3 separate regions of the Homo sapiens genome follow, and regions 2 and 3 are each linked to region 1. The links come from fine-mapping of genetic effects on gene expression. A gene starts in region 1. Each other region holds a variant in brackets. All regions are shown on one strand. Distances are between the middles of the regions.

Evidence for each region. PIP is the estimated chance that this variant, and not a neighbour inherited with it, causes the effect.
Region 2: its variant is fine-mapped to the expression of FAIM2 in subcutaneous fat (FUSION, PIP 0.93).
Region 3: its variant is fine-mapped to the expression of FAIM2 in thyroid (GTEx, PIP above 0.99). The same link has a PIP of 0.9 or more in lung and tibial artery.

The regions. Positions count from the first base shown.
Region 1 is chr12:49,902,536-49,905,292 of GRCh38, forward strand. FAIM2 (Fas apoptotic inhibitory molecule 2) reads right to left here and starts at 1,365. Exons shown (of 12, transcript NM_012306.4): 1 at 1,243-1,365. The coding sequence starts at 1,257.
Region 2 is chr12:49,923,126-49,925,882 of GRCh38, forward strand. It overlaps LINC02395 (long intergenic non-protein coding RNA 2395), which reads left to right. Exons shown (of 6, transcript NR_110048.1): 2 at 1-556; 3 at 657-1,388; 4 at 1,811-1,962; 5 at 2,137-2,263. Among named protein-coding and RNA genes, the nearest start is that of LINC02395, 13 kb to the left of the region's middle. The variant T/C (reference allele first, on the strand shown) is at 1,620.
Region 3 is chr12:49,872,180-49,874,936 of GRCh38, forward strand. All of the region lies in intron 11 of FAIM2 (Fas apoptotic inhibitory molecule 2), which reads right to left. Among named protein-coding and RNA genes, the nearest start is that of FAIM2, 30 kb to the right of the region's middle. The variant C/T (reference allele first, on the strand shown) is at 1,373.

The sequences.
Region 1 (2,757 bases):
CAAGGGGCAGAGGAGGCAGAGGTCCCCCTCACACCAGGAAGGGAACAGCGCCACTAAAGGGCCTGGTGGAGGCAGGGTGGAGGTGGAAGGAGACTCAGCAGAAGGGGTGAGTTCTCCATGTTTACGGAACTGAACACTCCCCAGGCCTCCCACTGCCTCCCACTCCCCAGCCCCCCTCATCACCCGGATCTGAAGGATCATGTCCACCTAAATCGAGTTCAGCCTCCACCCTGCCACTCCGCCCCCCAGAGCCTCCTGGACCCTAATGCCCAGGCCCCCGACACACATACGGCACTCCCAAGTGAGGTGTGACCAATGGCGGGAGGTGGTATCACCCAGTGACATCATTTGAGGCCCAAAGAGCTTGCATACAGGGAGAGGAGGGTCTGAGGGTCCAGGGAAGGATGTCATTGGCTCTGAAGCTCCTCTCAAAGAGAAGAAGGGGGAGTGTAGGGGAGGTCCTTCCCCTGTTTTCTCTGCCCAATCCTTAGCAACCCAAACAGAGGGCCCGAGTACCCTCCCCCTTAGCCCCAGGCCCTAGTGGTTGTATAATTCCACAGGCTATTGATGTTACATAAGCCTACTAGGCCAGCCGAGTCTCTGCCCCAGCCCCTCCCCTACAATTCAGGCCTAAAACTGGAGAAGAGATGCTTCATCCGGACCCATCCATGCCTGGCCAAAACCAAAACAACAATTAGAGCATCTTGATGCAGAGTTGTCATAGCAAGCCCCAAGCACAGGGATGGAGCCAAGACGCCCAGATGTGGAACAATGGCAGGGAGTAGGGTGGGGGTTGTTTCCGTGGAGGGTGGGAAAGATGAGCATAAAGTGGTTGGGTTTGGGACTGGAGGGTTGGGCCAGAGGGGGTTGCCCGATAGGCACTGCCCCTCAGGGCTCACCCTGGCACACACATACCCATGCACACACATACAGTCACACCAGACGCCCGGGCTGACTCCTCACGGGGGGCCTGGGTATCTGTGAGGAGCCTTGTAATGCTGTAATGCCAAAGCAGGGGTGGCAGGGTGACAGGGGAGGAGAGGCGCGCCTGCGGGCAGGAAGAGGCCTCGGTCCATTCCTTGACACCGGCCTTTCGGTCCTCTGACTTCAGCAAGGACCACGGAGGACCTTCAAACTAGGGCCAGGGGAGGATGCTTTCGTGGTCCAGAGGGCTTGCTGAGGATGACAGGGAGCCGGGAGCCGGAGGATGGAGGATGGTGCAGGCTGGGGAGATGCCGGTACCTTTCCCTGGGTCATGGTGCCGTCTCTCGGGGAAGGGGTCCCTGAGGCCCGGGTGGCCGCTTGGGTAACCGCAGCCTGCCTGCGTCTCTTCCTTCCTCCGCGTGGGTTCTAGCAACATCCACTGCAGCCGGGCCAGGCGAGCCGGCGCGTACCATCGGCGCGGGGGGAGGAGAGGGCCGGGCCTGGGAAGATGCTGCGGAGGACGCTGCGGATTCGCGAGCCCGGGGTAAGGCGGCGGCGCACCGCCCCCTCCCGCCGCTTCCCCCCCACCCCGCCCCCCACCGCCGCCCTTAGCCCTCCCCCGGGATGAGAGAGAGTCGCGCTGCGGAGCAACCCCAGTGGATGGGTCCGCGGGGGCTGAGCGGGCGGAGGACGCGGGAACTCCGTGACACCGACCAGCTGACGCTGCCCGCGTGAAACCAGAGCCGGGCATCAGGGCCTCATCTCCACTGTCTCTGCACCTCTCTGCAGCTCCAGCTGCGCCTCTGCCTTTTCCTCCTCCCTCTTTGGATGCGGCCCTGATTTCTGTCTCCATCTCCACCTCCCCTCTCATCATCTATTTCATCATCCCTGGTAGAGGGGAAGGTCTGGAAGTCTCGCCTGTGCTGCCCGCTTCTAACAGGGCCCCTGGGCCCTGCGCTCCTGTGGGCCTGGGGCAAGCCAATAGCCACCTATCCTTGCTCCTTTTTCTCGCCTGTGAAATGCACACAGTAGGTCCCTCCCTGCCTTGGTTCACAGAGACATGGGGTGGGAGGACACCTCTTCTGTTTCTTTCAGCCCTGCTGGGACATTTCACGGGGTCTTTCTGGAGACACCGCTAGTTCTGTCTCAAAGCCTCTACAACCCCTGCCAGAGCTCTCTTCCTGCCTCCACGCTTAGCTTCCATCACCCCGTCTCCATCTTCCCCCCTTTTCCATTCCTCCCATGCCAGAGCTCGTTCTCCCCGCTTCCCCAGACGTGTCACTGGGACCCAGCCATCATCAGGCCCCGTTTTCTGTAGCTGCTGCAGTGTCACTATGGGGTTTGCAATCTCAAGAGCTGGGATCAAGTCCCAATTTAGTCACCCACTGGCCGCGTGGCCTTGGCAAGGCCCTTAACCTCTCTGAGCTGCAGCTCCTACGAAAAAGAGGCTTAGAACAGAGCTCTGTCCATCCTAGATTGACTGTCAGACGCACAGGTTATGGCCGTAAAAGCACATAAAAGACCAAGAAGTGCTGGAAGTATGTGAGGTATTATTAACTGAGGAGTCTCCTACCAGAATGTCCTGGGCTGCCCCAGAGCGAGCACCCACAAATCTGCCTAAAAGAAGTATCTGAACCTGCTAGGATGGGACGAGAAACTAAGACCTGGGACAGGTGGGGGTGGCCACTTACCTTCTGCTTCCCTCTCACTGCCCAGGGACCCACCTAAAGTCCCTGAGAAAGCAGGGCCCAGGTAGGCAGACAAATTATCAAAGTCTTTTTTTTTTTTTTTTTTTTTTTTTTTACAGAGAAAATCTTGTTCTGTTGCTCAGGC
Region 2 (2,757 bases), 21 kb after region 1:
AACAAATTCAACACAACACATGTTTACTGAGCACACACCATGCCAGGTGCCATTCTGCAATGTTAGGATACATCAGTGAGCAAAATAACAAAAAGTTCTAGAAGTTAGAGATACTGTGGACAGGGGAAAGCGGTGCTAGGCAAGGTGGTGAGGAGGGCAGGGATGTGGCAGTTCCAGGACTCAGCAGGATGGGCAGGGCTGGCCTTGTTGAGAAGGAGACTGGAAAAAGCAAGGGAGCCAACTGAGTGACATTTGGGGGAAGAGCATTCCAAGCAGTCAACAGCAAGAGCAAAGGCCCTGACAGGGAGCACGCAGGCAGGGTGGCCAGCGTGGCTGGAGCGGAGTGGCCAAGGGCTGGGGTGGGGTGAGGGGCAGGGGCCAGCTGTGGAATGCTGCTCCTACGTGCTAGTGTTCTAAGACTCATTCAGCACTGCCCTGAGTATCTTGACTCTGAACCTGTCCCTGCCCTGACCCCTTCCCCAATCAACTTTAATTTTAGGGACCCACCCATCACAGTAAATGCCAGCACTGCTGATGCCAAAACAATGTTATTTGTGTAAGTATGTGTTTTGTATTTTACCGCCTTAATCCTGTCTTCAACCTCTCCTCTTCTGTCCCACCCAAGTATCTGCCCTTCCTTTCTTGACTCCTTCCAGAGGCCCTCGGAATTTGTGACCTGAAGGAAGAAGAGCAGGGCCGTGGGAAGTATGTAACCAGTGTCATGCCCCTGGTCCCAAGGAAGCAGTGGCTTGGTAAAGAGGGGACCCCCGTCAATAACTCCCTGTAATTACTGGGCACCCACTCTGAGCTCCTCAGTGGAATCCTAAGGTTAATAAGACTGTCTCTAGCCACTGGGGCTCCCAGCCTGGAGTGAGGTAAGAGGAGTGGAGCCGGCTGGGGAGGGAGACGAACACATACACAGAAGATTCAGACACACTTGCAATGTATTGCTGGGGATTCTCCAGCATTGGCATGATGGAGAGGGTGGAGAATCATTTGACCGCCTCCGCCTAGGATTGCAGAGTTCAGCTGGCCATCATCCACCAGCCGGGGGACTGTGCACATCAGTTAACCTCTCCTCTCAGGCCTTGAAAAGCACCAGGCTTAGTACACGTTTGTTAAATGAATGCACTGCAGTTTTTTTGCTTGTTAAAGGCAGGTAATAATAATGATATTGCTGACTAAGGGCTCCCATCCACTCCCAGTGAGCCCGGTGCCCCCCCGGGCCTCCTCAGTGAGCTGAGGAGGCTCAGCAGTGCCTGCACGTCCCCTCGCCACAATGTCATGTGCCACCTCTTCAAAGGAGGGATGTACCAGCTAGTGGACGTGACCTTGACTGCAAAGGGCGGCACGCAGCTGATGTAATGGTCGCTTAAGTGTTCACAAATGTAAGTCATTACTATTATAAGTGGTGGGTGATCAAGTGGCTAGGGGTGCCATCTTTAGCAAATAAAAATATAGGACGCACAGTTAAATTTGAATTTCAGATAAGAATTTCTTAGCATAAGTATGCCCTATGCAATATTTGGGACACATTTATATCAAAAAAAACTCAATATTTATCTGAAATTCAAATGTAACTGTGTGTCCTAGATTTTATCTGGCAGCCTTATTGATGG[T/C]GGCTTATTGACTGGCTGGGAATGACAGGGGTGTAGGCCAGGAAATGGCTCTGTGAAGGCTGCCTAGAACTGAATCGAACATGAGGATGAGTCAGTGTCAAGACTCCCAGTGGGGCCATCGGATCATTACTGCATGATCGTCTTAAGCCTTTGTTAGTGAATCCCTCAGACTCACGCCTTCTTCTCTCCAGGCCTGAACACCCTGTCCTACCTGGTCCTACCTGGATGCTGGCCTCAGTAAGCTCCTGGGCTCATTGAAGATGAACCTAGCAGTAGTATTTACACCACTTGTTGTGTGCCCACTGTGGGCCCGGCGCCATGCCGAGTGCTCTATGGATGTGAGGTAATGAAGCTGCATGGGTGGGATTCAAATGCAGGGTGGTCTGACCCCAGGGCCAAGATCTCTTTCTATTGCACCATGCTATGGCCTGATCAAAGACTCAAGCATCTAGGACAGAGAAAGAGGGAGCAGGAGGGGACACAGAATATCCTAAAGTGGCCTCCTACTGTGTCCCAGGCACTGTGTTAGGATTCACTGAGTTGTCACAAAAATCCTGCAAAGTTCATTCTCGAGGACGCTCTGGAATTTAAATACCTTGCCAAGATCATACAGATTAAGTGGTGGAGCAGGGATTTGAACGGAGGTCTGTCTCACTGCAAAGCCCAAGTAATTTTGCCCCCTTTTGTGTGTATGCATCCTGGGATGATGTGTGCATGCATGTGTGTGTGTATGCGTGTGTGCGTGCATGTGTGCATGTGTGTGTGTATATGCGTGCATGTGTGTGTATGTGTGTGTGCATGTGTGTGCATGCGTGCATGTGTGTGTGTATCGTGCATGTGTGCATATGCGTGCATGTGTGTGTGTGTGTGTGCATGTGTGTGTTCCTACAGTCACATCCCACCTTCGGAGTGGCGCTTTCCGGTCCTACCCAGCCCTTCCTCTCTTGGGATGGGTCTAGGGCCTTGGAGGTGATTAGACTCTAGTGGTGCTGGCACAGGGCTGGCTTTCTCAGCATATTTCAGGGGACTGTGTCCTCTGCCTGCTGTCCCCCAATCAGTAGCTTCTCTTGGGACTTGCCCTCCCCTGCCAGGGCTAAGGTCTGGTTGGTTCCCAGGCCCCTGGGCCTTGGACAGGGGA
Region 3 (2,757 bases), 30 kb before region 1:
GGGGACACTTATAGGTCATTACAAGAAAACCCAGGAAATGCACAATTAGGACTATGAAGGAAGGAGCTACTAATTGGGCCAGAGGAAGGTGACCCAGGAGAGGTGGCATTTCACCTGAGGCTTAAGTAGGAGTTTGCTAGCTGGGAAGGCCTAGGGAAGCCTGGGAGGCCTGACTGGTGTTGTGTGAAGAGTGGGGAACTCGGTGAGGCAGGAACTATGGGAGAAGTGGATAGAGGAGGAAGGGATTGGGGCTTGCCCTTGCAGCTTGCACTCTGCTTGGTAGACAGGGGTCATGCCCAGTTCCCTTTCCTTCACCTCCGCCATGGACTCCTTGTCTCCCAAGACCCAGACTTTAGAGTTGCTATAGACGCAGCCCTGTAGAATCCTAGTCGAATCCCAGCCCTGGTGCAATGCTCCCCCCGGCAGGCCCAAGAGGCCAGGGCTCCAACAGGGAGCAATTCCAGCACATGGGACATTGAGGCAGGGCCACCGTCAAAGGTGAGGAGGTGGGGGCAATTATGAGCACAGGCTTGAAAGTCAGATCCACTTGGACTGCAGGCTCTGCTCTACCACTCATTAGCTGTAGGACCTGGGCAGAGCATTTAATCTCTCTAGGCCTGTGAGTCCCTATGTGTAAAAGGGAGATGAGCGTGCCTGCCTCCTGAGGTTGTTGTGAGAATGAGATAATGCATGCAAGGGGCCTGGCGTGGTGCCTGACACATAGTAAGCACTTAATGAATGCTTGCTATTATATTAATGTGGTTTCATTGTTATTATCTGCAGAAGGAGAGGTGCCCTCTTGAGGACATGCACGTGCTACTGATGAGACTCAGGTGTCTCTTGCATCTCATCAGGGAGGCAGCACTGTTCCTTGGGGAGCTGAGTGGCCTTAACACAGCGAAAATGGGGAGCCATGGCCAGGGCTGAGAGGAGCCCTGCACGGGGTGCGTCAGTCTCCTGAGCTCAGTGGCACTGAGGGAAGGGCACTCCAGACAGGAACAGGAGTTGAAATGCCTGGGTTTGAGACCCGGCTCCATTGCTCAGTAGCCAAGTCATCCACTTGACCTCAGTGTCCTCATCTACAAAGTGGGATAGTAGCAATGCCCACACCACGGTGTGGTTTTGAGGGTAGATTTATGACAGTGTATGTGGCATCCACTATTTGTATTTTTGAGTATGATTTCTCTCCATTCCGCTCTGCTCCTTCTGTGTTTGATTTGGATTCCCAAGCACATTTTCCTTCTGCAGAGAGAATGAGCAAGCAGAAGGCCCAGTGCAAATGCTTTGGGCCACTTGGCAGTCACAGCTGCCAGCATCAGTTCATAAACTGCTGATCTGGCTGTTCAATCAGTAGCTTGCTTGGTTGGTTTCC[C/T]AGAGCCTGGTCACCCCTGGGTGAGCTAATGAAATGGAGTCTCTTAACTTGGAAGGCTTGGATCTGTCCAGCTCTGGGGGTGGCCCTTCTGAGAAGCACCCACGCAGGAGACCCCCTAGAGCAGCCAGCTGGCTTTTCTCTTGGAGAGAAGAGGAATGAAATGATTTCTGCCCCAGCCCTTGGTCCATAGCCACAGATGCTTATCTATGTGGTGTTCTCTGGGATGGCCTGCTTCAAATTTCAACCCCACTGACCAGTATGACCCATCACTGCCACCTGATGCCTGTGAGTCAAACAAAGTCTTTTCATCGATTTATTCCCAACAATATTTGCTGAGCACCTACTATATTCCAGAGAACTTGCCCTCATAGAACTGACAGTCTAATGAGGGCAAAAGACATGATCAGAGATTCTGCATGGCAGTGCATTGATTTACAGGGGAAAGTCATCTGCTGCTATCTCCTTGGAGATGGAAAGCATTGTTAACTAATGTCTTGGTTGAGAGCAGGTATCTTGGTTATAGTTAACATCTTAGTGGGTAGCTAGGATCTTGGCTGAGAGCTAGCAACCGAATTGACTGCAAACCCCTAAAAGGAGGGCAGGTACTTGAGTTAGTGTTCAGCTGAACAGGAGACTCTGCAGGAGGAGCACATGGGATGGGGCAGGAGGCCCCCTGGGACAAGGACGCTATTAACTTACATCTGAAGAGTCCTTCCCCAGACCAACACTTGATCTCATCTCCCTCTCCCCATTTGCCCTGGGAGGTGGGCGTCCTCATGGTCTTACATGAGGAAAGGAGTCTGAGAGCTGAGTGACTTGCTGATGGCTGCTTATCGAGTGCCGTCTCCTATGCTGGTGGAGATAGGGGAGGAGTGGGCTTGCAGGGAGGGAGGGAGCATGTGCAGAGGGCACAGGTGCCAAAGGCAAACTTCCCCGCCTCACTTTACTGGCCAGTGCTAAACCTGGCCGGGGACCCCAGCCACACATTTGGCCTGACCCTGCCATATCTGGGGCCCAGGCTTATGTCCGTTGTCCTCCCTGAATGTGGCCCCAGAGGTGACGCTGAGGGGCTCTGGGCAGTGCATGCCATGGAAAGGCCAGCTCAGAGCCACCCGCAGGCAGGCACTGAATACAAAAAGCTGGGGTTGCAATGTGTTGTATCAGCATAAACAGTGCCACGTGGACTGTGTCTGTCCTGCATAAATGCCAGTGTGAGGGCGTGTGGAGGCAACCCCCAGGCTGTTGTTTACAGCATTGGTTCTAACAGTGAGATGCTGAAACAACCCAAACTCTACCAACACGGGGGTGGTTAAATAAACTCTGGGCAGCAGTGCTGAGGTGGAAACATCTGTGACAGACGCTACTGTGAGAAAAAAGCAAGTTGT